Linked DNA regions of Homo sapiens: all the other regions are reported to be linked to region 1. Evidence: microRNA targets listed by miRTarBase, many of them from high-throughput screens and not tested one by one. Region 1 holds a microRNA gene; each other region holds the end of a gene's coding sequence.

Region 1 (6,088 bases):
CTAGGCCCTCCAAGTCATCCAGGCAGGGGTAGTGGTCACCATTCTAAGGCCAAGGGCGAGAGACAGCTCAGTTCAACTTGCCAATGCTATTGATGCTTACTCTGTGCCTGGCCCTGAGCTGGAAAGATGAACTGGGCTCAGTCTTGAGGGATTAAAAAAATAGGTGTCATCCTAAGGAACAACCACTTGGCTCTCTCCCACAACACCGGCATCTACTGACTGGCTCAGCCCCAAATATCTAGTCAGCCTTCTGTTGTGGTTTGCCTCTTCTCCTCTCCTCCATGCCCCTGCCCTGCTCAGTCCCATACCACCTGCTTCCCTGGCCCACCAATCTCATCCTAACCAGTGCCCTCTCTTCCTTCAGGCCAGCCTCACACTCTTCCTCTCACCCTGCTCATCAGGCACATCTTGCCTCCTGACTACATGCCATGCCCCCTTCCTCTCTCCAGCCAACCCAACCCATCCCAGCAACCCAGCACATCCCAGTGTATATGCCATCTCTTCCCAGCTGGACTGAAGGCCTGGGGTGGGAGTGGCAGGGTCCTCACTTGGATCTCATCAACATCAGCAATCCAGGCCCGGGCCTTAGCAAGAGCCTCCTTGAGAGCCTGGATGTTGGGCAGGTGAACAGGGATGTTTTCCGCTTCACGGATTATGGCCTCAAGTGTGGCTGGTGGATGCTTCTGCCTAAAGGTAAGGAAAAAAAGAACGCTCAGTCTGATGTGGTCTGCCTGACCAGAAGCCCAGCCTGACCACCAGATATATCTGCATGGGCCCCTTGGGTGTCTGTTATTCCTGCTGTCACTTGGGCCTACTTGCTTGTATTCCACCTAAGGGTAGCTGCCAGTCCCTGCTTCCCCAAGACTGCATGCACCCAACTTCATCCCTTCTGCCACAGCTCTTGCACCTCTGTTTGTCTGCCAGTCTGCTGGCCTGCTAGCAATGCCTACATATACAACCTGTATTGTGTAATCTGTTGCTGCAGTTTGTCAACTGCCCTGTGTGGGGTCTTTCTACCAACATCTGCCCATCTGCCTGTCACTTGTGCTTCTGGGTATGCGCACATTAGCCTGTAGGGCTAGTCTTCTAGATAATCTCTATCTGTCCATTTCTGCTTCTCCATCAGCCTCTCTTTGCCTTTAAGTATACAGAGTTGTTTTTTAAAAAAACGACAAGATAGACAACAAAAGAGGGGAGAGTCAATACAGTAACACAGGAGCGTGATACCTAAGGCCACCCATGGGCATCCTCTTCTGGGTCTCCACTCAACTTTGATGTTTGGAATAGGGCAGGGAAGGGAAGCAGCAGCTGGACCTACCTGGCCTCCAGGCAGAGGTGGGCTTTCTCCTCCCAGCGTTCAGCAATGGTCAGCAGTTCCTGCAGCTCGGCCTGGGCTTTATCCACAGCAGGGCTAGGGGCTACACTGGCACCCGCGACCAACAGTCCTCGCATGACAGCCAAGGTGCCCCTTCGGGCTGAGGGGGCCAGTGTGCGTTTCACCTCATCCAGCCATCGCGCCTGTTCCACCTGCCGCTGGAGCTGCTGGGCCTCAGGCACCTCCACCCCCAGCTGCCGCCCCCTCTCCAACAGGGACTGCAGTAGCCCTGGACTGGAGGGCAGTGAGGCCAGGGCCTCACGAGCCTCAGCCTGGTAGGCCTCCACCTGTTCCAGAACACCCTACCAGGACACAGGATGAAGAACAAACTCCTCAGCTGGGCCCACTGAGGGGTTCCACCACCAGATGGAACCTTGTCCCACCTATCTTCTTACCCTCCAAGCTTTTGGGGCAAAGGAGCCTAACATGGGCTGAGCTCTCCTTCTCCAAGCCCTAAGACAGTTGGGGTTCCTAACACTGACTGCTCATTAGAATGCCCTGGGGAATTTAAGAATGCAGATTCCTGGGCCCCACCCTGAGAGATTCTTAATTAACTAATAATTATTAATCTATGCTTTATTTAACTTTTCAGAGGGCTCTGTTCTCAGGGCACCAAGAGACCTCCCTGCCCTAAAAATTGCTATGATTAGTCCTCACATAAACCCTTGTGCTCACCACCCTGGGGTCTGTTGCCCTCTCCATCTCACTCCTCCTCCACCTTCATGAATTTCCCTCCACTTTCCAAGCCCAACAAGCACCCCTGTTACCTCCTTCTCCTCTACCCCTCCTCCAGGAAACCTTACCTGGACTCTGTATCCTATACCCATACCCTTGCCACCTGACCCTCAAGGCCCATTTCTAACAGACAAGTCACTAGACCCTTGCCTCACCCCTCCCACCTGTTCTTTTCTCACACGTGTGTCCTGTCTTGCCTGAACACTTTAAGCTTTTGAAAGGAGCCAAGCATGGCCTGCTGCTCAGGTCCCCTGGTCCCCTTGATCCCTCATCAGCACTCCAAGCGTCCTCACCTTGACATCCCCAATCTGGTGCATGGCGCAAGGCAGGTTGTTCATCTGGTCCAGAAAGGCCCGGAGCTCAGTCAGGGTCATCTGTAGACCAGCCACCCTGTGGGGGCTATGAAGTATCACATGTGAGGTTTCAGGTCCAAACTCAGTGCCTTCCCTCCATGTCTATGCTAAGACTGAACACCTTTCCTCACTACACCTGTCCACCTTGATCTCGCATATTTCAAATTTGCCCCAATTGCCCAGGTTAGAGGGAAGGTTTTAAATTATAGAGCATGTTCATATTATGAGGGGAAAGAATTAGAAACTAATGGGTTGTAATAAGAGCTACACTTTGCAATCCATCCTCTACTGTGAACTCTAAAGCTGTGTTAGCAGGGATCAGGTCTATACATCTTTGTCCTGTTCTTACCCGTAAGCCTCCCACAACTCTTCCCTGCCCACAAAACCCCTCAGCCTCTCTCTCAGGCCACTTCCAGGTACTGATAAAAAATAAACACTTCTAGCTTTCTTATCACAGAGGCTCTCCTCTCCTTTTTAGGTGGCCTGGTCTCCTTGTCCCCCCCAACACCTTCCAGGCCATCTCACACTCTTGTGCCTGGCAGCTTCCTGCTGATGTCCATTCTGCCAAATGGTATTCACAGTCTACCCCTTGCAGCACTTTTCCTCGGTGCTGGATCCTCAGCACCTTATGTGTGCCCTAACTCCTCACGCTGTCATACCCAGCTTCCTGGCCGCTGACCAGTCCCAGAGCTCGGGACACGCAAGCCTCTGCCTCACTCAGGCAGTTCTTTAGTTGCTGCAGCAGCTCACTATTAGGAAACCTCCGCTCACGGGCTTCAGACTCTAGTGCCCTCAGTTCTTCAAGGCCTGGAAGAAAAATGAGGGCAGCAAAGAGTAGGCAGTATTGAATAGAGGCAGAGGAAGGGGGTCAGAGTACAGAAGAAAGGGAATAGAACTTGCCTGTGGAGTCCCTCCATCCCCCCCATCACTCACTGCGCTTCCGCCCATCCTCCACCTCCAGGGCCACTCGCACTTTGTTGGCCCAGGTGTCAAAGGACTCAGCCCGAACCTTCAGCTTATGCAGCATGGCAGGAAGCTCATCCAAGGTATACCGATACCTGGAGGAAGAGGGCAGGCAAGAGCATGTCTGGCCCAGCTCTCCATCCTCCTTCTTGCCCCACTTCCTCCAGAAAGGCCCATGCTCACCGCAGGTACTGCCGGCTACTGGAGCACTTGCAGAGATCATTGATGTGGGAAAGGCAGACAAGGCCGTCTGGGCAGTCGTAGCAGGCCAGGGCTGACAGGAAACACGTAGTCTTGCACTTGATACACTGGCGCTCATCATCTGGGAGCAGCTCGAAAGCCTCTCGCTCAGCCTCTGTGATACCCTAAGGGCATTTAACCTATGCGTTATATATAACCAGAACCAGGTAGCAAAATCCTCCATCTCAGCCACCACCGACCCCTACTTTAGATTCAAATCTATGCTGAGGGTCATGGGGTTTAAGAGGCCAAACCCCAGGGAGCATACCTGCCCTTTGTAAAGTCTAGACTCTCAAAGCTTGGGGAATCAGATAAACCAGGGCAAGATCAGTGTGCGCTGAGTCAGATAATTTTATAGAGGAAGAAAAATCAGGTAAGATCCAGATCAGCAGAAAGGGTCTTGTGGGTGAGAAGTGAGGAAAGTGGTGGACCAAGATACCAGAGAGGTGGCAATGAGTGCAAGTGGCCAAGGGACAGGCCTGGCTAGTTATGTGTACTGGGGAACAATATCGGCTTCCAGTTACTCAGAGCCCACTGTGTTCCAGGCACCACGCTGGCCACTTAGTAGGCAGGAGATACTTGTGCACATATATAACTTAGAGAAATTCAACCGTATGTGCTTGTGTTCAGGGTTTAAAGAGATATAATAATTTTCTCCCAACAATATGGTTTCCAAACCTAATCCAATGACTTCATCTGTTGCTCAGATAAAGAAAAAGCAATCCATTTCAAAAATGAAGGAAAAGCTGGCTATATTGGAGTAATCGAGAGACAACCCAGTGTGTATATCTAATGGGCAATTTTAGGGATTTTAATGGGAAATGTCAACTCTTAACAGTTTTTGTCTTACATACCAACTTTAACACCTAATCTCTGCATAAGTTATGAGCCCAAATCCCACTCTGCCACTTATATGCTGTGTGATCATGAGTAAATCATTTAACGTCTCTGGGTCTGTTTCATTATCTAGTAAGATGGAGATAAACAGTATCATCCTTGTTGGGTTGTTATGAGGATTAACAAAAATAAAGCAGCTATGGAATCAGACAAGTATCTCAGCACTTAGATTCAGTGTTCATCAAATATTTACTGTTATTAGCTCTAATTTTCAGATAAGAATATATATTCCACAGGCCTATCTCATTTTACTAAGGCAGAAACTAAGTCTCAGGGTCAGTAACTTGCCAAACTGAGTTAATTTTGACTCTAAAGCCAGAGAATATTCTAAGGATGAAGTCTCTAGGGTTTTTTTGGACTACAGACTCCTGAGAATTGGATGTAAACTATAAGTCCTCTTCCCAGAAACATACTTAAATACACATACAATCTCTTACAGGATTCCAAGACTATGGTGTCCAGAATGCTTCTCTGAGGTAAGGGCCAAGTGTGAAGAATTCTGAATGTCAAGATGAGAAGGTCTATTCTCCCCACCTTGCTTTGGCTCCTTCCCACAGCTTGGCACAGCCACACGGCCATCATTTAATAACAGTACTGAACAGAGTGAGAAAATGATGCCTGGAAAAGCCCAGGGACTCAACAACTTACACCACGACTGAGAGGCCCCAGACTTCCAACACTACTGTAGCTATAGTTCTCCCTATAGCCCACACTCACAGGAAAGCTATAAATGAGCTTTAAAATAAGAAAGTATTACCCTAGATAGGCAGCAAGGGATCCCACAGAACCAGCACTCCTTTGTAATCTTATGAAAGACTCTCACAAAGTCAATTCCCTAACTGGGCAAGTGTGAAATTTGAAGATGATGGCTGAAACTACACGAGTGGACTTTAGAGCTCTGTAGCAGCTTCCACTCAGCTACACACACAACTGACACAAGCTTACAAGAAATCAATTAAAGCAGGACCACCTTCAGCTTGGTAATATTATTGCCCTAGCTGGAGTTAATAAACCATCTGCATGTAATAAAATGGCAATTCCTGAGAAACATTCCAAATTTCAATCAGTTTCTTCATGTATTAACATTACCAATAATAGCAGCTGCAACATTGCAAAGGCAATGTTAGAGAGATGGCTTTCATATAAATCACCTTACTCTAACCTTACATCTTGCAAGTTAGGTATTTATTCCCACTTTAGAGTAGGAAAGTGAGATATGAAAGATCAAGTAACTTGATACAGTCACCTAGATAATCAGCAGTGAGGTTTCATATGCCAGTCTATTTTGCTAGGTCATGTAAATAATGATAAATAGCTGCTATACCAGTACCTGCCATGGGTCAGTCACTAAGCAAACATTATCTTTAATACAATCAACTATCCAAAAAGATAAGCATTATCATAATCCCATTTTTCAGAGGGGAAAACTGACAATGAAGTAAATCGACTTAAGGTTGCTGGTAAAGGGTATAGCAGAGAATGGTATGTGGTTTTCAATCGAGATGCATCTAGTTCTTTTCACTAT
Region 2 (7,071 bases), not on the chromosome of region 1:
ACTGTTCTTTTGACGGGGGCGTTCCTGGGGAGTTGGCTGTACTAATAAGTGGGGCTCTGGAACCCAAACAGCTTCTGTGTGACCCAGGGTGGGATTCCACTTCTGGGCCTTATTTTAATTCTATGCATACTTGGTTGACAGTAAACTCTTAAAGCATTGCCCAGAAGCACGGAGGAGACAGATGATGTGGTGTTCCTGCCTGTCATTCCTGGGCTTTATCCTGGGGTTACTCAATGATGTCCCCAGGGGCCCAGAGCCACTGAAAGTTGTGGCTTAGCACAGCTGAGCGGGCCTGTGGGGGCTCCCTGCTGCTCTCAGGACCCTCCCACCCCCCACCTCCGCAGCTCCTTGGCTGACCCCTTGCCTTCTGTACATCCCTGTTCCCTCAGGTGTCCTGGGCCTTGGGGGCACTGTCATCTGGAGGGCCTGGCACTCAGCTCCCTGAGGGGCAGCAAGGGCCCCCAGCCGGATGCCCAGGGCGGCTGCCAGAACTCAAGGGTATGACAGGCTTGGGAGCCTAGCGGGGCAGGGAGGGCGGCTGGAAGAAGTGCAGCTTCTCTGTGCTTTAGGGTCTGCGAGGCATTATGCTGACCTGATCCCCACTGCAGGAAATATCCGTGTGCTGTGTCGGCTGAGGCCAGGGACATCTTCTAGCCTTGTGAGTGTGGAGCCTGGCCCAGGGGGCACCGTCACCACCTGCTACCGGGGGCGCCATCGTCGATTCCGCCTAGACTGGGTCTTCCCTCCAGACGCCAGCCAGGAGGAGGTGACAGCCTGCCTTTGCAGCCATCCTGACCCTTTTTCAGAGTTCCCTGAAGAGCAGGAGAGGCTCCAGTTTCCCCTTCCCAGTCTGGGTGTCCACCTGGAGGAGAGAGGGTGGCTGGGCTCTAGCCAGGAAGGAAAGGGAACCGAGGGGGCTGGGAAGCAGGGCAGGCAGCCCAGCTTGGTGCCTCCTCCTCCCAGGCTTCACTGCCTGCCCACTCCCCTTTGCTGGGGTCCAGGGTTTGCCCAGCTATGAGGGCCCCTCATTGCTTTATGGCCCCAAGGCAGGCGGTGGGTGGTGGGGGCCGTGGGTGAGGAGGCAACCTTCTAGTCTTAGTGTGCTCTCTCTGCCTTGCCTGGATCCCACTCTCCTTCCCCACCCTTTTCCTGCCAGACACCTGTGGAAAAGCAGGGGCTTCAGCCCCAGCCCACCCCACTTTCACACACGTTTTCATCTGCACATGCCCTTTGCTGCTACAGCTCCCATAGCTAAGGAGATGGCAGCTCAGAGCCAGGGGAGACTAGGTAAGGGGCAGAATGGCAGCGACTCCCAACCAGGCTGCCTGCCAGCCTCACAGGGACAGGGGGACGACTGCCCAGCAGGTGGCCAGGGTCACCCTGATTGCCTCTTTTCCAACCACTTCTTCCTTCATCCCACACATCCCTCTGGCCTTAGCCCCACCCCACACTGCAGCACTGCGCAGGGCATGCCTTGTGCACCGTCCTCTGGACAGCCGTCCTGGACAGGGTCCTCTCAGTCAATGTGTCTGAACCAAAGGCATCTGTGGACAAGCCCCTCATCTGTGTTCCTGTTTCTGCAGTGGTGCCATGATGTGCTCCTGAATGTCATCCTCAGTGCCACCTCCATCCAATCATGGAACCTCAGTGACCACACAGAACACAGAATTCTAGATTCTAGCCTTGTGGCTGTCTTCAAACAGAGCTGACAGCCCACCCTGTTAGCAGCGACCTTCTGGGCATAAAAGCCAGCCATGTTGTTGCTCAAAAGACTGTTGGTGTCCAGTGCCAATGGGGTGAATGTCCTAACCTTGTGTCTCTCTCAGCACCTGTCTGTGCCTGGGCTCCAGCAGGCCTGGCTGGCCACCATCCCCCGTACCTGCAGGCCCTTCCTGGGGTCACGCCTTGTGAGCCAGGTACTGGTGTGGCCGGCCCTCTAGGTGCACTGCCACAAGTGTTCACAGCAGGTGCCACTGCAGCCCTTATCTCTCAGGGGAAAGTGAGGCACAGGAAGGCCAATGAGTAAGCTCCAATCATACCCAGGTTTGAACCGTGCAGTCACGCCCCAACATCTGGGCTCTTTTTTTTTTCTTTATTTTTGAGATGGAATCCCACTCTGTTGCCCAGGCTGTAGTGCAGTGGTGTGATCTCGGCTCACTGCAACCTCCGCCTCCTGGGTTCAAGCAATTCTCCTGCTTCAGCCTCCGAAGTAGCTGGGATTACAGGTGCGTGCCACCATGCTCGGCTAATTTTTGTATTTTTAGTAGAGACAGGGGTTTCACCGCGTTTGCCAGGCTGGTCTTGAACTCCTGACCTTGTGATCTGCCTGCCTTGGCCTCCCAAAGTGCTGGGTTTACAGGCGTGAGCCACCTCGCCCAGCCCATCTGGGCTCTTTTAAACATTTTTAAAATTTTTTACTACATATATATGTATATGTATTTTTTTTTTTTTGGACAGTCACACTTTGTCATCAGGCTGGAGTGCAGTGGTGCAATCTCAGGTCACTACAACCTCTGCTTCCTGGGCTCAAGAGATCCTTCCACCTCAGCCTCCCGAGTAGCTGGGACCACAGATGTGCAACACCATGCCTGGCTAATTTTTTTGTAGTTTTTGTACAGACGGGATTTCACCGTATTGCCTAGGCTGGTCTCAAACTCCGGAGCTCAACCAATCCACCCTCCTTGGCCTCTCAAAATGCTGGGATTTATTTTTCTTTTTTTCACGTTGGCTTCCACATTAAGGACACCACACCTGCGCTCTTAACTGCTGTCCCCAGGTCTCCTACGTGGTCTTCAGGACTCCAGAGCCTCTGCATAGGCTGTTCCTCTTCTCATTGTGTCTTTTCCCTTCTTTGCCTGGCAAATTCTTGCAAGCACCACCTTCTCTAGGGAGACAGAGGGTCTCTGTAGGACACACCCTCCCCCATGGTCCCTTAGAGCCATCCTCCCAGGAGACTAGGCTCTGCTCACACCTGCCTTCGTGGCACTCCCCACCCCACCAAATAGGGCATAAACAGGCAACGTGGGGAGGACTCAAAACACATTCTCCCGCCTCCCGCAGGTCTTCAGAGAGCTGGAACCTGCGGTGCTGTCCTGCCTCCGAGGCTACAGCGTCTGCATCTTCACCTATGGCCAGACAGGCACCGGGAAGACCTACAGCATGGAGGTGGGACAGAGCTCACGCCCCAGTGGGAGAGGCCCCAGGGGCCCTGCATGACTTGGATGTGAGCCCGGTGTGCACCCCACCCCATCCTCAGGGCCCTCCTGAGGACCCCGGCATAGTTCCTAGGGCGCTGCAGTCGCTGTTCCGGGAGATGGGGGCCGGCCGGCAGCACCGGGTGACACTCAGCATGGTGGAGATCTACAATGAGGCTGTCAGGTGGGCTACTCCACCAGGGAGGCCTTCTCCCCACCCCTGGCCCAGGGCCCTTCCGGATTTCCAGAGAATTCTGGAACCAAGACCTTCCCCTTTCTCACCAGGGACCTCCTTGCTCCAGGGCCTCCCGAGCGCCTGGCCGTGAGGCAGGGCCCAGAAGGCCAGGGCGGGATCCAGGTGGCTGGCCTCACCCACTGGGACGTGCCCAACCTGGAGACATTGCACCAGGTAGGGCTGCACCGCTCTCCGAGACCCCGCCCCGTGCTTCCACTTGGGGGCGGGGACCCTGCACCTGACCAGCCCTTCGCCCCGCCTTCCAGATGCTGAAACTGGGGAGGAGCAACCGGGCCACCGCCGCCACCGCCATGAACCAGCGCAGCTCCCGCTCGCATGCCCTGGTCACGCTGACGCTGCGCGCGGCGTCTCCACCGCGCGCTCCAGGCACCGCAGGTACCACGGCCGGTGCCTGAGCCCTGCGGAGTCTCCAGAGCACCCGAGGCCCGGCCTTCCCCCATGTCGGGCTCGCTCGCCCCTCTAGGCACGCTGCACCTGGTGGACCTGGCGGGATCCGAACGCGCACGGAAGGCAGGGGCGGCCGGCCCGCCGCGGGGAGACCCAGACGGCGCCCGGCGCCTGCGGGAGGCCCAGACCATAAACCGCTCGCTGCTGGCGCTAGGAGGCGTGATGGCCGCACTGCGGGCCCACCGGCCGCACGTGCCCTTCCGCGACTCGCAGCTCACGCGACTGCTGCAGCCGGCGCTGGGCCCAGGCACCACCGCGGTGCTGCTGCTGCAGGTGGGCGCCGGGGCGGGGCAGGTGTGTGCGTGCCGGTCGCCGCCCACCCGGGCCCGCCCACCCGCGCCTCTTGCCCGCAGATCTCCACGCGGCCGGAGGATCTCGGGGAGACAGTCTGCTCCCTCAAGTTCGCCGACCGAGTGGGTCAAGTGGAGCTGGGGCCAGCCCGGCGCCGCAGGGTCCCGCGCTCCTCCGGGACGCCTTCTTCCCTCAGCACCGACACTCCGCTCACCGGGACCCCCTGCACCCCTACGCCGTCCCCTGGCAGTCCTCCATGCCCCAGTCCCGACAACGGCTCGGGCTCGGCTCTCGCGCCCGCAGAGGGCCTGCCCCTCTAGTCCTGGGTCGCGGCCCTGCCCATGGGGTCTCAGGCCAGGTCTCTGCTGGCAGAGGCGGTAGTAAAGTCCCTGTACCCCGTCTCCCAGGGCACAAGCTCCCTAGCCTCTTTGGATCCATTGCCCCTGAGCTCCCAGAGTCACCCCTCCACCTCCGCAGCCAGTGAAGTGTGTTGTGCCTGCTGAAGTGATCACCCCCCGCCCCCAGCCCTGCATCAGGCCACAGGTCTTGGCTTTCTCCTTATCACCATTTGCTGTTATCACGGCACACAGCAGGGAATCCCAGGCCCCCCCGCCAAGTGGTTACCCAAGTCACCACTCCTGACCCAAAAATCAGGCATGGCATTAAAACGTTGCAAATTCCTTTACTGTTATCCCCCCCACCACCAGGACCATGTAGGGTGCAGTCTTTACTCCCTAACCCGTTTCCCGAAAAAGGTGCTACCTCCTTTCCAGACAGATGAGAGAGGGCAGGACTTCAGGCTGGATCCACCACTGGGCTCTCCCTCCCCCAGCCTGGAGCACGGGAGGGGAGGTGACGGCTGGTGACTGATGGATGGGTAGTGGGCTGAGAAGAGGGGACTAGGAAGGGCTATTCCAGGCTCAGCCCTGCTCCTGCAGCTTTGCCGCTGAGTGTAGGAAAAACAGGCATGACAGACCAGGGTGAGGGTTGTGCCCAGCTGGGCCACGGCCATGCGTGGGGTGGCCCAATAAACACCGTGGACTCCCAGCAAGGCTGCTGCCTGGTGTTTCGAGGCTGCTGTGGTCGCAGACAGCCGCCTCGCCTTGGCTCCCTGTCAACAAGGTGGGGGTGGGAGCGGGAGGGAGGAGTGGCCCCTGTCTTAAGAGCCTCACAGGCTGCACCAGGAGAGCAGCCAGCCTGGGCCAGGGGCCGCCAGGTCCCGAGGGTGGCTGACCCAAACGTCGTAGATGCTTTTGTTGGGTGGCACCCCTTGGAAGAGGGCGTCTAGATCGCAGAGCAGCCCTGGGGGCCCTCGGGTTTCAGGGGCCACCCCCCAGTAGGCAGGGCTGGTTGACGGACACTGGGGACAGGAGGTGGGTGGTGGTGCCAAGGGCATTACCACATTGGGAGTGTAGATAGGCAAGTAGGAGGTGGGCAGCTGCCCCCAGAGGGAGGCCCTGTGTCCCCCGCTGGACCGTCCCCCAGGAACTGCGGTGCCCTGCAGTAAGTGGAGAGGCCAGGCCCTAGGCTCTGGGGAGAGGGTTGAGGGCCCGATGGCTCCCCCCTGCACAGTCTCCCCCTCCACTCTCGTGGGGCCAGGAAGGGGGCAGAGGGGCCACAGAGGCCTCTCAGAAGAGGGAAGGGGTGGGGTGGGCACCGCCTCCTCCCCACTGTTCCCTGTGCCTGCAGGAACTGGGCTGCTCTGTGGAGCTAGCCCCGGCCAGGGTGCCCCCTCCCCGGACCCTCCTAGCAGGGACTTGATGCTGAAGCCCTCACTGGGTGGTGGCGGGGGACTGGGCGGCCGGTATGGCCGGCCGTGCAGCACGTAGGGGCCCAGGTCCTTGGCGAAGGCTCCACGCGCACCTCCGTTCTGCCAGCGCCGGCACAGGGCGGTGTTCTGCAGCCGGAGCGCCTCAGCTGGGATCAGGCTCACGTCGACCGCCCAGAAGTTGCCCTTGGCCTGGGGCTTTGCAGGGTCCTTGGGCACCTGGGTGTGGGGGTCAGACATGGGTGGGGCTGCCCAACCTTGGATGCTCAGGACTTCCGCGCGCGCTCCGCCCCCGGGCTCCGACCCTGGCCTGCCCCACCTTGCGGAAGCATCGGTTGGAGGAAAGGTTGTGGCGAATGGAGTCTTTCCAGCCCTCGTAGTCTTCCCTGAAGAAGGGGAACACGGCCTGGACCTGACGGATGATCTGAAACCGCCAGGCGGCCGGCCGGCGCCGTGAGCCCAGACGGGGAGGGGGTAGCGCCCTACCCCTCCCCCACTACCGGGCTCAGGGGCGCGCGGTGCCGGCCCCTGCTGTCCCCGAAGAAGGACATTTCTGCGCGGAAGCGCGGCAGAGAGGGCAAGGGGCTCCCGGAGAAGGGTCGTGCCTTGAGGCCCTCAGCTCTCAGGACTGGTCCCACTGGCATACCTGGGTGGGCTAGGAAGGGGTGGGGGTCAGGGCTTGAACCTGGAAGTGGGTGGGGAACGAGTCTGGGGAAAGAGAGAGTGGGGGCCGGGGCCCGCTCACCTGGGCCAGCTTCAGTCTGCGGGAGGGAGCGGCCTGAATCACCAAGGCGATCATGGCCAAGTAGGTGTAGGGGGGCTTGTCATGTCGCAGGTACCTCTTCTTCCTCCTCTTAGGGGGCTGGGAGGGCGACTCTGCCTCTGGGGGCCCCAGGCGGGAGCCGCTGCAGGGCCCCATGCGGGACGGTAGACAGCGTGGGCAGGGGCCTGGCCGGGTGGAGGGTGCAGGGCGGTGGGGCAGTGTAGAAGGCAGGGCCGGGACCTGAGGCCGGGCTGGGGCAGGCGGGCTGGGGCCTTTATCATTCGGATGGAAGGGGGAGGGGAGGGAAGGGAGGAAGAGGCTGTGGGGGAGGGGAGCATGCCGAGGGCTTCCA
Region 3 (7,071 bases), not on the chromosome of region 1:
GGCTGGGCTGGGCCAGACTGGGTGTCGGGGCTGGCCTCAGTCGCAGGATATTTTGAGGGCGCAGACAGTAAGATGGTCTTACTGCCTGAGCTCTTTCCTACCCTTTGGGAGGGCCAAGCTACAGCTATTTGCTACCAAACACCTTTTTCCTATTAACTAAGCATACCGCCCAGCTGGGCAGGAACAGGCTGAGGGCCTGACAAGCAGGGAGCCAGGCTCCTGCCAACAACCAAAGATTCCCCATTTCTAAAGGATGGAAAGAGCCCCTGGGAGGTGACCGAGGCCACAGCCAGCCCCTCCCTGTTCAGCACTGAAGAATGACACGCATTACAGAGCTCTGGAGCAGCCCGCAGTGGAAAGTTGGAGCTGAGGTGTGTGGCAGGCAGATGAGGGAGCAGAGAACTGCTGAACAGAGTGAGACTCAGAGGACGTGGTTGAGCATGGCTGCGACCCTGCAGTTCCTGGTTTGCCTGGTGGTAGCCATTTGTCTCCTCTCTGGTGTGACTACAACCCAGCCCCATGCAGGTACCAGGCTTCAGGGTGGGTGGAGAGGAGCCAAGGCTGCTGGCTGACAGCAGTTAACAGTTGGCTCTATTTGAGGCTAGTCGGGCATAGAAGCGTGGGCATGGTGGGTACCAGGCTGATGTGTGCTGTGGTGGGTGACAGTGTGGGCCCCACCCCCAGAACTGGAAAGGTACAGGTGACACCTAGGGAGATAGCCCTAGGTGCTCTTAATGCTGGCCCTGGGCTCATTCCCACTGATGCCCAAAGCAGGGTCTCTTGACCTGCCTGGGCTTGGAACAAACATTGCAAGGGTGAGGCAACACCCCAAGGTGTGGGCCGGACGGAGCTGCCACAGACATCCTCCCCTGCTCTGTCCTCCCTGCCTCACATCCTCCCCTGCCCCGTCCTCCCTGCCTCACATCCTCCCCTGCTCTGTCCTCCCTGCCCTGTCTTCCTCCTCCCTCCCTTACTGCTGAGGAGGAGCAGGGAGAGTAGGCTCTTTCCAAAGAGGTCTTTGTCCTTGGGAGAGTCACTGGCACTGTTTTAGGTGACTTTATCCTCAGATGACTATAGGGAGGGGAGGAGGGTGGGGAAGGGTCTTGTGACCCGTTGGCCTGGAGCTCTTTAACAAGGGCATTGTGCAATTTAAAGGAGGTGTCCTGGGCATTTGCCAACATGGTAACTGGGCTTGGAATGATGCTTTTGAGATCAGAGGACCTATGCCTGGGAGGGTGAATGTCAATGTGCATGTGTGTGCGTGAGAGGGAGGGGAAAGGAGGGCATGGGATGGCATTCCTGCCCTTTTGTAGAATGATGAAGCACTCGGGACCTCTACCAGGCAGCAGAGGGGCACTTCTGGGAGGCTGGGGTGTTCATGGTGTAGCATGGCAGGGGCCTGACTCCTCTCTGCTGCCCCAGGGCAGCCCATGGACAGCACCAGCGTGGGAGGTGGCCTGCAGGAGCCAGAGGCCCCGGAAGTGATGTTTGAGGTCTTTCCTCCCAGCCTGGGACATGGGGGTGGGCACGTCCAGAGGTCCCTAAGCTCAGGGTTGGGAAGGGGGATGTCTCAGGGTGGACCTGCTAGGGTTGGGTGGGGCAAGCCAGCATGCGTCCTGCTGCCTGCTTCTGCCCCTTCCCCCAGCCCACTCTTGCTCCCTGCCCTGCTCCCCAGGCCACAGCCCACCCCTTACATGGCTCCCCTTGCAGCTGCTCTGGGCTGGGCTGGAGCTGGATGTCATGGGGCAGCTGCACATCCAGGATGAGGAACTAGCGTCCACACACCCAGGCCGCCGACTCAGACTCCTCCTGCAGCACCACGTGCCCAGTGACTTGGAGGGCACTGAGCAGTGGCTGCAGCAGCTCCAGGACCTGCGGAAGGGGCCTCCTCTTAGCACTTGGGACTTTGAACATCTGCTCCTCACAGGCCTGTCCTGCGTCTACCGGCTCCACGCAGCTAGTGAGGCTGAGGAACGGGGCCGCTGGGCCCAGGTCTTCGCTCTCCTGGCACAGGAAACACTCTGGGACCTGTGCAAAGGTTTCTGCCCCCAGGACCGGCCCCCTTCCCTGGGGTCCTGGGCCTCCATCCTTGACCCCTTCCCCTGACCCTCCTCTTTTGTTCTTTCACCTGCCATTACCCCCTCCCATCTCCTCCTCAACCCCCCAGGCAGACCCATCTTGCGCAGGGGCTTCTGTCTGGCATCTGATTCTTTTCACCGTGTTCAGATCTCTGGGCTTGGCTTGCACCCTGGACACCCCCTCTCTGCTTACCCCGACCAGATCTTGTTTCCTAGATCTTGAGAGGCTAAGAACCCAGGCTCTGGGTCGCAAGGAGTGCGCAAGGAGTGGGCACAGAGCTAAGGGCACGACTTGCAGGCAGTGTGTGTGTGAGTGTGTGTGTGTGTGTGTGTGTGTGTGTGTGTGTGTGGAGATCAGGGGTCAGGGTTGAGAAGTGTGTTCAAGAGATGCTGAAGGGAAGCTGCCCCAAGTAAGGCCTGGTCAGACCTTCCAACTCCTACCCTGGCAGTCTGTGACAGGTCCTGTGGAATTCACAGGAATCCTCTAGGTGCTGAGCATCCCCTTTTAGGCACAACCAAGGATTTGGGGTCTCTGAGCCTCCAAGTTCCCATCTGGGTTGGGAGAATCGACTTTTTGAGTTCTGTCAGTTGGAAGAGTGGAGGGAAGCAGGGGGAGGGAGGAACATTATCTCTTTTGGGGTAGGGAGGCAATATCTCAACAAGCGTCGGGTGAATACCTCAGAGGGGGGAGTAAGGCTGGGAGACCAAGGAGAGACAAGCGGAGGTGGGCTGGAGCAGGTGTGGCCCTGATTCTGTGTTGCTCTTCTCATAAAATGTTCTGTTTCGGCCTCCTGGAGCCTGTGTCATTCTATGTCGGAATAAGCGTCTAACCCCTGCTCTGGGCAAATCACTCTCCCCATCCCGGGAAGGCAAGAGTCAGGGCAACCAGGTATCAACTCCTCATCTCATTCCCACGCCCTGCTGGAAGAAGGAATGCACTGTTTCCTTGAATCCCATGCACCCTGTGGGGTAATGGGGTGCTGTTCCTTGTCACAGAAAGGCATCAGCCGGGGGCTAAGGCTGAGGTCGTAGGTCAATGATGAGTCAGAGGGCTAGACGAGGTAGGGATATAAAAGGGAGGCCCCCAACGGACTAGGCGAATGTGGTTCCATCAAATTCCCACCTCCTCACCCTCCCAGGGTCCAAGGGGACCTTGCTTTCCAACCTCCAACCCCTTCCCCGGGCCTGCGGGCCCGCAGTAGTCAGCACCTTCCCGCCTGCCGCCGGCGAATGCGTCGCAGTCAAGACAGCGCAGGGGCCTGGGCTGCCGGGCGCTGCGCGTGCCCGCTTTCCGCTTTATTGGCAGAGTCCAGGCGCGCCCGGAGGCCGTGGCGCTCGCGCGGGACTTTCGAGCCTCCGGCCCGGCCTGGCATGCACGCCCCTGGCCCTCCCGGGCTCTTCTCTGGCCCGGGGCTCACAGTAGCTCCGAGGCCCCGAGGCCCGGCGGGGCGGCGGGGGCGAGGTCGGGGTACACCAGGAAGCCGGAGAAGGTGATGTACTTGCCGTGGTTGCTGTAGGCGCCGTAGCCGTCGTGGTCGTGGCTGAGCAGCCAGACGGCGTCGCCGCGCCGCAGGGCCAGCATCACGCTCTGGCTCTGCATCTCGCGGCGCCGCGACGCGCCGTCGTCGTAAATCATGGCCTGCACCTCGTCGCGGTTCTTCATCAGCTTAACCGACAGCGTCTTACGCGGCAGCTTGCCCAGCGTGAAGGAGAAGAAGTAGGCGCCGGGCAGACGGCAGCGGAACACGCCGGCCGCCGCGTCGAAGTCGCCGCCAATGTTGACGAACTCGGTGTCGAAGGCGAGTGGTTGGTGCCGCGGCCCGGGGCCAGCGTCCGAGCCCACCAAGCTGCGCGTGCGCGCCGCCGAGAAGGCCGAGCGCGGCTCGGGGGGCGCGGGCGGCCCGCGCGCAGGCGCGTCAGCGTCGGCGTCGGCGTAGACTAGGTAGCCGCTGAAGGTGGCGCCGGGCGCGCCTAGCGCGTACTGCGGGGCGCCATGCAGCCGCAGCCACACTGTGTCGCCGTAGTCGAGCTGCAGCATGGCGCTCTGGCTGGCTGCGCGCCGCGCGCCTGGCCGCCGCTGCTCGTCGAAGGCCAGCGCCTGCACCTCGTCGCGGTTTCGCACCAGCATCACCGACAGGCTCTTGTGCGGGGCCTTGCCAGCCGTGAAGGAGAAGAAGTAGGCGCCGGGCACGCGGCAGCGAAACTGGCCGGTGGCCACATCGAAGTCGCCCCCGATGTTCACGTACACCTTGTCGAAGGTCACCGCCATCTCCGACGTGCCCTCCAGGGGGGTGGTGCGTGCCGCCGAGAAGGCCGAGCGCAGCTCAGAGGATCCCGGGCCGGGGGTCGGGCCCAGGGCCCAGCAGGCCGCTGGGCCCAGCAGGCCCAGCAGAAGCGGCAGCATGGCGCCTGGGAGGGAGACGGAGGGGCGAGAGTGGAGTGTTGGCAGGGGCGGCTTCCAAACGCCCGGCTCTCCACCGGGAGACAAGGGTTCTCTTCCCAGCCCTGCCCTTGACCCACAAGTAGGTTTCAATTTTCCTACATCCTTGGATTCTCAAACTCTAGCGAGCCTCACTGTCACTTGGAGGGCGTGTTCAAACATACATAGTTGGGCCCCATCACCAGAGTTCATTCAGTAGGTCTGTGATGGGCCTGATAATTTGCATTTCTTTGTTTTGTTTGTTTGTTTTGAGATGGAGTCTCGCTCTGTGAACCAGGCTGGAGTGTAGTGGCACGATCTCGTTTCACTGCAACCTCCACCTCCCGGGTTCAAGCAGTTCTCCTGCCTTAGCCTCCTGAGTAGCTGACATTACAGGTGCGCACCATCACGCCCAGCTAATTTTTTGTATCTTTAGTAGAGACGGGGTTTCACCATGTTGGCCAGGCTGGTCTTGAACTGACCTCAAGTGATCCACCTGCCTCAGCCTCCCAAAGTGCTGGGATTACAGGCGTGAGCCATCGCGCCTGGCCTTGAAACCCCGCCCCCCCCCCTTTTTTTTTTGAGACGGAGTCTGGCTGTGTCGCCAGGCTGGAGTGCAGTGGCTTGATCTCGGCTCACTGCAGCCTCCACCTCCCAGGTTCAAGCGATTCTCCCGCCTCAGCCTCCCAAGTAGCTGGGACTACAGGCTTGCACCCAGCACACCCAGCTAATTTTTGTATTTTTAGTAGAGACAGGGTTTCACCATGTTGGCCAGGATGGTCTTGATCTCTTGACCTTGTGATCCGCCTGCCTCGGCCTCCCAAAGTGCTGGGATTACAGGCGTGAGCCACCGCGCCCGGCCGAAACCCCTTTCTTAAGTGAAAGCTTGAACACAGACTAGCAGAAACACTCTGGTTAAAGAGGCCTACAGCCCTGTCTGCTGGGCTTGCCCCTACACCTCCCATTTGACACTCAGGGGCCCTGGTAACCCGGGGGATTCAGGGGAGTCTCTGAGTTCCCCTCAGCTCCAGTTGGCTGCATTTTCCTGTGGTTATTTTATGGTCCTTGGTCTGCCACTCACGCAGGCACTGGCTCTCTGTGTCAACGCTCTGCATGACCGTTACTGTTTAAGCCCCATCTGAGCAGGAAAGGAAATCGCTGCTCCCTGACCCCTTTCCTGGCCTCACCAGGGGCCCTTCCTGCACAGAGGAGGCGAGAACAGTTGGGCTTTGAGGTAGCTTCCTCCCCCTTGAAATCAGAGTAAAAGAGAAGGTGACTCCTTTCTCTTTGCTTGGAGGCTGGTTACTCAGAAGAAGGAGTGGCGAGCCAGGGGCTACTGGGGATGGACAGGGACAGCAACAATTCCAGCAGGGCTTTGGCAAGGCTGTGAAGTCAGCAGCTTTGTTCCTTGGGAGTGATGGATTGGAGAGGACAGATAGCCAGATCTGGGTTCAGGTCCTGGCTCTACCACTCACACTGTGAAACCTTGGGCAGGTTCCCTAACTTCTCTGGGCATGGCTTCCTCCATGTAAATGGGGAAGAGACCTCACACACAGGCTTGCTGTGGGGGTGTGCTGAGATAGGTGTGAACATGGTTTGTCAACGGCAGTGCTGAGGTGTGCAGATGCTTCTGTCGGTTGCCCTGACAAAAGTGATCTGGTCCAGTTCTTGACGTAAGGGTTTAGGGACTCAGTCACTCCTACCCCTGAGAGCTTGGTGAAGGCACTGCTTAACTCAAAGGAGTCACTCTCTGATGTAGGGATTCCATCCTGCTTCCTAGTAGGGCACGTGCTTTGGGGCTTGAATACCCAAAAGCCCTGATGTGGAAACAAAACAGGAAAGAAATGAGCTGGAGACAGCCTGGGATGTGGGCTGCTTTAGAAAATGCCCTGTATGTGTAGCTCTGTGTCTCTTAGAGACAGCAGGGACCTGCTGAGAAGGGTTGTCAGGTGTAGATGTGCAGAACGTCCCAGCTAGAATCTAGCTCACACTCCACATGTTAGAGCAGCACCTGGCGTAAAGTATGCCACCTTCTCATTCTCATACTAAAGACCCCAAGTTGCTAGCCAACTGAATGCTGTCTCCTTCCAGAGGAGGTGCTTTTTGTAATTCTCACAAAGGTGTCCTATGGATTAGTTAGGTGTCCCTTGGTTAGGACAGGGAGGAGGGAAGGGGCCATCCACAGTGGTGAAGATGGCACCTCACAAGTGTCCAGTGCATTCCCTTTTACAAAGTTCTTTTAGACACATGGTCTTGGCAAACCTACAAGACAGGTGGGCCGTCTCCCATTTTATAGATGAGAAAGCTGAGGCCCAACAAGGGAAAGCATTTTGGCCCAAGGTCACCCATGGAGCACTGAGGTTTTTTGACTCAAATTCCGTATGCCTTCCTGTCACTCTTCCCTCCTAGACACAGGTATGTCCAGCCAATTTGTTCTGTGCCTCAGTTTACCTTTTTGCAAAACTAGGAGAGGAGATCAGAGGAATGAGTCTTGGGATCCAGGGTGAGGAAGACAGAAAGCAAAACCAAACAAAAGCAAGCAAACACATTCTCTAGTGTTTTGTCTTCTGGGAA

The links. Region 1 holds the annotated microRNA hsa-miR-6894-3p (UUGCCUGCCCUCUUCCUCCAG, at 3,522-3,542, opposite strand). A microRNA usually pairs through its seed, bases 2 to 8, with sites in the 3' UTR of a target mRNA and lowers its output. Matches are read on the target gene's strand: a 7mer-m8 pairs with bases 2 to 8, a 7mer-A1 pairs with bases 2 to 7 and ends in A, and an 8mer does both.
Region 2: the mRNA of FOXH1 is a reported target of hsa-miR-6894-3p. Seed matches in the 3' UTR shown: 7mer-m8 at 4,682-4,688.
Region 3: the mRNA of FAM180B is a reported target of hsa-miR-6894-3p. Seed matches in the 3' UTR shown: 7mer-m8 at 2,373-2,379.

The regions. Positions count from the first base shown.
Region 1 is chrX:53,195,368-53,201,455 of GRCh38, forward strand. It overlaps MIR6894 (microRNA 6894), which reads right to left and starts at 3,578; the gene lies at 3,522-3,578. It overlaps KDM5C (lysine demethylase 5C), which reads right to left. Exons shown (of 26, transcript NM_004187.5): 15 at 3,610-3,791; 16 at 3,397-3,521; 17 at 3,123-3,270; 18 at 2,404-2,509; 19 at 1,319-1,677; 20 at 549-687; 21 at 1-43. It overlaps MIR6895 (microRNA 6895), which reads right to left and starts at 121; the gene lies at 44-121.
Region 2 is chr8:144,468,882-144,475,952 of GRCh38, forward strand. It overlaps FOXH1 (forkhead box H1), which reads right to left and starts at 6,968. Exons shown (of 3, transcript NM_003923.3): 1 at 6,702-6,968; 2 at 6,276-6,380; 3 at 4,531-6,175. The coding sequence starts at 6,875. The coding sequence ends at 5,357. KIFC2 (kinesin family member C2) reads left to right here. Exons shown (of 18, transcript NM_001369769.2): 11 at 390-498; 12 at 609-766; 13 at 3,061-3,165; 14 at 3,257-3,378; 15 at 3,480-3,603; 16 at 3,696-3,825; 17 at 3,914-4,170; 18 at 4,251-5,321. The coding sequence ends at 4,508. RefSeq lists a silencer at 3,561-3,620 and enhancers at 4,523-5,418, 5,419-6,312.
Region 3 is chr11:47,586,329-47,593,399 of GRCh38, forward strand. It overlaps FAM180B (family with sequence similarity 180 member B), which reads left to right and starts at 350. Exons shown (of 3, transcript NM_001164379.3): 1 at 350-525; 2 at 1,423-1,493; 3 at 1,711-2,866. The coding sequence starts at 441. The coding sequence ends at 2,106. C1QTNF4 (C1q and TNF related 4) reads right to left here. Exons shown (of 2, transcript NM_031909.3): 2 at 3,339-4,487. The coding sequence starts at 4,482. The coding sequence ends at 3,493. RefSeq lists silencers at 1,055-1,255, 2,880-3,080.